2 linked regions of the Homo sapiens genome follow. The protein of the gene in region 1 interacts with the protein of each later gene in a pairwise test. Each region holds a gene or a part of one and is shown on either strand. Other genes may lie near its edges. The genes, in order: SPA17 and MYL6B.

Region 1 (3,818 bases):
TAGATAATTTGTCTAATGCTATGAGTGGGGTGTTGAAGCCCCTCACTATTATTGTATTGCAGTCTACCTCTGTCTTTAGACATAGAAATTTTTTTTAATGAATCTGGTTGCTCCAGTGCTGGGTGTGTATATATTTACAATTGTTATATCCTCTTACTGAATTGATCCCTTTATCATTATAAAATAAACTTGTTTGTTGTTGTTTTCTACTGTTTTTAACTTAAAGTCTGTTTTACCTAATGTAACTATAGCTACTTCTGCTTGCTTTTGGTTTCTGTTGGCATGGAATATCTTTTTCCACTTCTTTACTTTCAGTCTAAATGCTTTTACAGGTAAGGTGAGTTTCCTATTAGCAGCATATAGTTGAATCATGTTTTTTTTTTTTTTTTAAAGAAATCCATTCAGCCAGTCTATAGCTTTTATGTTGAGCATTTAATCCATATATGTTTAAAGTTATTATTGATATGTGGAGTTTTGTTCCTTTTGTCTTATTGTTAATTGCTTTCTGGTTATTTTATACATTGTTTCTTTTTCTCTTACTGTTTGTCATTGTGGACTGGTGGAATTCTGTAGTGGGCCCATTTGATTCATTTCTGTTCCTCCTTTGTGTGGTCGCTTTAACAGTGAGTTTTATACTTTCCTGTGTTTTCATGATGCTAACTTCCATTTTTTTGCTTCCAAGTTTAGGATTTCCTTGAACACTTCTTGTAGGGCCAGCCTAGTACAGACGAATGCCCTTGGCATTTGCTTGTTTGGGAAATACTTTATTTCTCTTTCATTTATGAAGGTTAATTTTGCTGGATATAGAATTCCTGGCTGATAGTTGTTTTCTTCCAGCTCTTTGAATTATCATCCCACTCTCTCCTGGCCTGTCAGGTTTCTGCTGAGAAGTACGGTTATTAGTCTGATCGGGTTTCCCTCACAGTTGATGAGATGTTCTCATCTTGCTGTTTTTAGAATTCACTCTTTGACTTTAGACAGTTTGATTTTAATGTGCTGTGGTGAAAACTTTTTTTTTTTTTTTGCATTGTATTTGGGGAATCACTGCACCGCCTATATCTGGATGTTTAAATCTCTTGCTAGACTTGTGATGTCTTCATCTATTATTGCATTAAATAGGTTTTCTAAGCCTTCTGATCTTTTTGTCCTTGCGGATACCAATAATTCAAATATTCAGCTGCTTTATGTTGTCCCAAATGTCTTAAAGGCTTTGTTTATTCTTTTTTATTTTTGTCTTACTGGATTGTTTCAGACCTGTATTCAAGTTCTAAAATTTTTTTGTTCCACTTAGTCTAGTCTATTGTTAAATCTTTTGAATGTATTTTATATTTCCTTCAATAAATTCTTCAATTCCAGAATTTATGTTAGGGTTTTTTTAAAAATAAAAATCTATCACCTTGTAAAATTTTTCATTTATATCCTGAATTGTTTCACTGAGTTCTTTGTATTGGTTTTCAGATTTCTCTTGCACCTCACTGACCATATTTAAAAATCAGTATTTTGAGTTCCTTATCTGAGACTTTAAGAATTTCATTCTGGTTATGATCTATTAGTGGAGAACTGTTGTGTTCATTCTGGGGTGTCATACTTCCTTGTTTTTCATGTTTCCTGTGAGACTCTGAATTTCTATCAAGTTTCCAGTTGATGCCAATAATGCTGATTCCACACAGCCTTTCTCAACCAGCATTCATTATCTGAACCATGGAACACAGAGAATGTTTTGAGAAGCTCTTTTCTCAATTCTCCCAAGGATGGTACCTAACCAGAACCATTCTAGATACAAATCAGGACACTGATTCCTTACATGCAATTAGTGCCTTTGGTTTAGGGCTTAATTTTTTTGAGGAAACTTGGTTGAGAAAGCTGTCTTTGTAAAGCTGCTAAAGAGAAAGGCTCAGACTCTGAAAAAGCTAGCTTTATAGAGAAAACTACACCATTACCACCTTTAATTCTAACCGGTCTTTTGTATCAATAATATCATATCGATGATAATGAAATAATTGGACTAATAGTGTTTTGGTCTACGAAATATCATCTATTAATTCAGTAATTATTTGTGGAGTACCTGCTATTGCTTAGCACTGTGATGCTGAAAACATTTGAAGAATAAATGATGAAATAATTATTCATAACTTTTAAGCACCTTCTTCCTGTTGTTCATCATTAAACTTAAGTGAAATATCTGTACATGACTCAGATACTTTAGAAAAATATTCTCAGCAAAAAATCCCAGCACAATTTTAATTTAATAAGTTTTAATAAGATTTAATAAGTTTTTATTAAATCTTTTTAATAAATAATCTTTTTAATAAAATAAGATTTATTAAATTTTAATTTAATAAGATTTAATAAGTTATTTGTGATGCCTCCTCACATAATTCTCACAATTCTGGGGATAGCCTAATAATTGCTAGCTGTAGACAGAGAGAAGAAATAGCCAAATCCAACAGCTTCAAAGGACCATACCTCGAATGCATGATTGTTATAGAAGCGGTCTTCTACCTTACTCCCCCATTCTGCTGGATCAAAGTTGGTTTCTAAATAATAAAAATATAAGAACTTCAGATTTATTTGAATTCATTAAGGTAAATGTAGAATAGTGACACAAATGTAAGTTTCTTGTTTCAAATTACAGGTTCTTTACTGGCAGTCCAAAATCTTATTGACATTGTGCATAGCGTAGCACTGCAGACATTACCAGTGATTATTAAACATATGATAACCAACTGAACATTGGATGAGCCTTTGGGGATATTTAGAAAAGCACTAAAAACGTAATTTCTGCCTTCATAAAATTTATAATAAAATGGGAAAAAGAACAAATGCCAGTACTTAAATATAAATGTAGACACTTAGAACATGTATTAGTAAACACAGAAAAATGTATAAACCTAAATGCTAAGTTGTCAGAAAGTCTGGAAAAGTGAAAGATGGGAGAAATTTTTTTTAATGAAGTATATTATGTAGACAGTTGACACAGACAAGCAGAGGTATTTATTTTTAAACAATTTTTTTCTTTAACTTTATATTATAAAAATTTCAATACTTAAAAAGTAGATATGATAACAAACTCCCATGAGCATACTGTCTAGATTCAATGATCAACCCATGATTTATTTTATTTATAACCTTTTCTTCTGATTATTTTTCTGCACTTTTTTCTGATTATTTTTAACCCAACCCCTTGCATCCTGTTATTTTATCTACAATTATTTATTTCAGAATGTATCTCAATATATACTCTTTTAAAATATAACCACACCACCATTATCATACTTCAAAATACTAAAAATATTAATAATTCCTCAATATCCTCAACTATTCAGTCAACTATCCAAATTTCTTCCATTGTCTATTTATTTGTTGGTTCAAATCAGGACCCCGAAAACGGGCACACACAGCTCTTTGTATGTCTTTTAAATTTCTTTTAAAGGAAGAGCCCCCAGCCCCTATTCTTTCCTTGCAATTTATCTGTTGATGAAATTACGTCATTTTCCCTTTGGAGTTTTTCACAGTTCAGATGTTTCTGACTATCCCCATGGTGGCTTTTAACAAGTTCTTCAGCCTTTGAATTTCCTGTAAACTGGTAGCTAGCTGTATAGGTTTGATCTAATTCGGGTTTGACGGTTTGATTTTTTTTCTGCAAGTATACTTGATTGGTAGTGCTGTGTAATTCTGTCATAAAATTTATAATATCTGGTTACTCTTTTTATAATTTTTATCGGCCCCCTGATGATCCTTGCTTAGATCATTTCCTTAGGGGTTGTGAAATGGTAATGCTCTAATTTGATCAATACTTCTTTATTTTCTGGAGTACT
Region 2 (4,449 bases), on another chromosome or scaffold:
CGCCACCAGGCCCAGCTATTTTTTTTTTTTTTTTTTTTTTTTTTTTTTTTTGTATTTTTAGTAGTGACAGGGTTTCACCATGTTGGCCAGGCTGGTCTCGAACTCCTGACCTCAGGTGACCCACCTGCCTCGCCTCCCAAAGTGCTGGGAGGTGTGAGCCACCAAGCCCGGCCCTATTTTACCAATAATAACACTTCGAATCCTCCGAAGAGCCCTATGAGGTAGGTACCATTATCATTATTTTACAGATGAGGAACTGAGGCCCAGGAGAGATAACTAAACCTGCTGAGGGTCACTAACTAGGACCTGGTAGAACCAGGATTTAAATCTGAGTAGGCTGTCTGAACCCCATCCACTTGAGCACCCTCTGAGATAATTTAGCCCCTTCACCGGTACGAGATCTATGGCGGCCTCCAGAAATGGTTGCTAACTTACTATTATCGTTATTTCTGTCGTACAATTCATTTCTACCTTTCCAATAAACTTTCCCCAACCAGTGAACCTCACTTACTGCCCATAAAGTTCACCTGTGCCTCACCACCCTGCCATCGCCCGAGTTTTCTGCTCTGATCTAATCCTCACACGCCTGTGCAGCACCAGCTTCCAACACCAGGTGCACCGCCAGGGTATTTACTGATCCAGTGAGTGAAGGTGGGCCCGGCCGGGCTGGTTCCCATCCTCTGATCAACGCCTAGGGGAACCAGTGAACTCCAATGCTGACCATAAGAGTTTCAGAAAGTAGGGCTGGAAAGCCCAGCCCTCCGCTCAGAGACCTGTGAAGATCGAGGAGGATGGCGCATATGCTGCCGCAGGATGGAAACCTCGATCAGAGAAGGCTGGGGCAGGTGACTGGGCTTAATTGCAAATTTTAACATTTACTTCAGCAACCAGCTCATTAAAAACAAACTACTCTGAGGCCTCTTTTTTTTCTACCAAACCGCGAGAGGAAGCAAAAGAGAGTGCAGCGGTTCTCCCCGGGGCCGTTAAGTGCTTCCAGCTATCTGACCTCCACGCTGCCTGCTGCAGCCTCAATCTTTCCCCAGGTTCTGAGTTCTTTCAGCAGTAGGTCCAGGAAAACAGCCGCCCCGCCCCCTCCACCTCCCGAGACTAGGAGCCCGCCAGGGTTAAGTAGGAGGGATACCCTAGGGGCCCCGCAGGGTTTTTAGGGTTGGGGTGGATTGGAAATTGTTCATTGCCTTTCAGTTCCGGGACATAAAGCGCGCTGGAAGGACACTGAGTCACCAACCACCGCCATGGGCCGGAAGCCACCGCCCTCGCGTCAACTGCAATCTAGAGCGCGGCGCATCCCGTGAGCCCGCGGGGAACTACGACTCCCGGCATGCTCCGCGGCCACCGGAATTAACCCTTCAGGGCTGGGGGCCGCGCTATGCCCCGCCCCCTCCCCAGCCCCAGACACGGACCCCGCAGGGTGAGTTTTTGGGGGCTGAGGAGGGCCATTTTCTTTAAGATTTAGTGGGGGTGCGTGAGTGTGTGTGTGTGTGTGTGTGTCGTGTGTGTGTGATGTATTTTGTAAAAATGGGACAATTTGCAGTCATGAGATTCAGACGCTGTTTTGCGAATGGGAGACCCAGCATCAACCCCGGGGCCTAAGTGGAATCACTGCTATCTTCCTCAGAATGCTACCTAAATCCTTTCCTAATTTACCCCAGAACAAAAGTAGCCTGCAATCCCTCCCCACTCCCAAACGCCCCCCAACTTGGACTCTCTCCCAGCGCCCCTGGCAAGGTTTGTGACCTGGCCCCTGAGTCAGGATTTTTATTATACCCCTGGTTGTGGGGTGAATACTCATGGAGCCATAGGAGCGCCCACATCCTCTTGGATTAGGGAATTTAAGCCGTCTCCCAGAGCCTGCCCTTCTCCTCAGGTGCCACCAAAGGGTCCCCACAGGTTCAGCAAGCACCCTACCTTTTGTTTGTCTTGAATGACCGTGGGCTTGTGGAAGGTTTCTTCCATGGAAGAATGGGTAGCAGATGTTAAACCTGATCTTTGCCCCCACTCCTGCCCCTAAAACAACACTGGGCACAGGAGACAATGAGGGATGTCATACTCCTGTTTTTATGACTATTCTTCCTTTATACTGTGAATAGTTCCAGTTCTTGGCTGGGTGGGGGCTCAGGAACTACAAGTATTAGGGATCATTAGACTCTAAGGTTAACTACCCCTGCTCTTTACAAAGCCATGGTCAGAAGGGAGTGGAGGGGCTGGGCAGATGGGCTTCTTGTTTTTGTCATTGCTCCCAGACCACACTTTAACTTGTTCCAGTTCACACAAGCCTCCCTGGCTGCTACCCCTCACCCCACCCTTCAAGAAGACTAAAGCTGCTGGATCACCTGCTTTGCCTCACCACCCCCATCTCAGTGCCACTGGCAAGCATCCTATCCTCACCCTGGAGGTTAACTACCTCATTCTGGGCAGTCTCTGGCTTCCTCCCCTACCCCTAAAGGAAACATTGTTCTTTTCTGGTCAGCCTTTGGGGATAAGGGGACAGAGGGAAGAAGACCTTGGGGCAGGAGTCCTGAACCATAGGAGGCCAGGGGAGTGAGGGCAGGCGGTTATATCTCTCCTCTACCTCATCTTTGCCACAGCCAACTGGCTCCCTGCCCCTGCCCCCGCCCCTTGACATCCCAGACTCCCTGGCTATTTAAACAGAGATGGGTGCCCCCATCCGCACACTGTCCTTTGGCCACCGGACATCATGCCTCCCAAGAAGGATGTTCCCGTGAAGAAACCAGCAGGGCCCTCCATCTCCAAACCTGCTGCTAAGCCAGCAGCAGCAGGGGCTCCTCCAGCCAAGACCAAAGCTGAGCCAGCTGTCCCCCAGGCCCCTCAGAAAACCCAGGAGCCTCCAGTCGATCTCTCCAAAGTGGTGGTGAGTCTCTGGAAAGTGAAGATAGAATTGGAGGGGGTGGTTTGAGGGTGGGATACAGCCTAGGGGATTAGGGGGTATCTAGAAGGTAGGGAATCAGTGAGCCCTGGAATGAGATTGGGGCTTTCCCTTAGTCCCCCATTTGGAAGCATCCAGTCTTATGACTCTGCTGTTGTCTTTGCTGTTCTCTCCCTCTAACCTATAATCATGTGTGTACAGCACATACACACTCACTTACCCCCTGCTGGAGGCAGGGACTCTTAGATGGGGAACATCTGGGTTCTGAGAACAGTTTCAAGGTGAAGGGAAGAGAGCTGTTGCCTGCCCCTGGCTGGTGGTTCAATTCAAAAGGCCTGCAGCTCTGAACTCCAGGAGGGGAGGCTGAAGAGGACAGACTTGTTAGACAATCACAGCTGGGGGCCAGGGGTAAATTTAGCCTTTGTTCAGCCCCCAGTTATGTGTGGGATGCAGGGCTCAGGGCAATGGAGGGAGGGAAACAGGTGGCATGGGATTAACCCTGTTCCCAGGAAACCCTCCCCACTGTAATTCCTCTTCTTGGGATTCTCCCAAGGCCCAGAGCTGGGAATGGGACTGAGGTGGCTGGGCTTCCAGCCTGGTCCCTTTGGGCCCCTCCTCAGAAGTGGCTGCCAGTTGGTTGGGAGGAGTGCGGGAGAGGGATTGAATAAACTCTCATCTCTCCCCACCTGCTTTTTTCTTCCACAGATCGAGTTTAACAAGGACCAGCTGGAGGGTGAGGAGAAGCTCATCTAAGGCCACTGTCCCATCCCCAATCCCCTGGTCAGATTCTCTTTCTATTCCCCTAACCCCAGTCCTGACCTTGAAACCTCCCATACTAGTCCTCTTTTCCTCCCTTGTTCTGTTCACATAGTTTCTGAAATTCCCTTCTGTCTGGGGGTGATGGGAACCCTAGTCAGTGTCTACACTGACCCTTCCTTATACTTTAGAGTTCAAGGAGGCCTTCGAGCTGTTTGACCGAGTGGGGGATGGCAAGATCCTGTACAGCCAGTGTGGGGACGTGATGAGGGCCCTGGGCCAGAACCCCACCAACGCCGAGGTGCTCAAGGTCCTGGGGAACCCCAAGAGTGATGGTGAGGGGACCCTTGGGAACAATTTGGGTTTTTAGTTTTCAAAAGTTGGATGTTGGTAACAAAAAGAATGAGGTGGATCTCAGGACTTCAAAAACTGTCAAACACAGAAGCAGGAAAATATCCTAAATGCTGAATAGGATGAAAGCATTGTGGTAGGGTTGGGAGCTGGGTCCTATGTAATACTACAATGACCTCTCCTTTACCTCTCTCCAACCTCCAGAGCTGAAGTCGCGGCGTGTGGACTTTGAGACTTTCCTGCCCATGCTCCAGGCAGTGGCCAAGAACCGAGGCCAAGGCACATATGAGGACTACTTGGAGGGGTTTCGTGTGTTTGACAAGGAGGGGAACGGCAAAGTCATGGGAGCAGAGCTCAGACATGTTCTCACCACCCTTGGTGAGGCAGGCAAGGGGGACCAGAACTCCTTTAGAGTGGAGAGGGGGATGGGGTGGGCC

The links.
Region 2: the proteins of SPA17 (region 1) and MYL6B interact in binary tests that used the Homo sapiens proteins (3 or more experiments, as listed by UniProt).

What each region holds. Positions count from the first base shown.
Region 1 is NC_000011.10:124,680,108-124,683,925, reverse strand, and holds part of SPA17 (sperm surface protein Sp17), read right to left. Parts: intron 2,538-3,818; coding exon 2,467-2,537; intron 1-2,466. UniProt on the Homo sapiens protein: Sperm surface zona pellucida binding protein. Helps to bind spermatozoa to the zona pellucida with high affinity. Might function in binding zona pellucida and carbohydrates.
Region 2 is NC_000012.12:56,151,203-56,155,651, forward strand, and holds the start of MYL6B (myosin light chain 6B), read left to right. Parts: upstream 1-1,429; intron 1,430-1,926; exon of another isoform or gene 1,927-2,606; coding exon of another isoform or gene 2,607-2,641; exon of another isoform or gene 2,642-2,670; 5' UTR 2,671-2,716; coding exon 2,717-2,890; intron 2,891-3,610; coding exon 3,611-3,638; intron 3,639-3,852; coding exon 3,853-3,996; intron 3,997-4,216; coding exon 4,217-4,390; intron 4,391-4,449. Other genes in the region: uncharacterized protein LOC124902942, read left to right, coding at 792-845, 1,204-1,429, 2,607-2,641. UniProt on the Homo sapiens protein: Regulatory light chain of myosin. Does not bind calcium.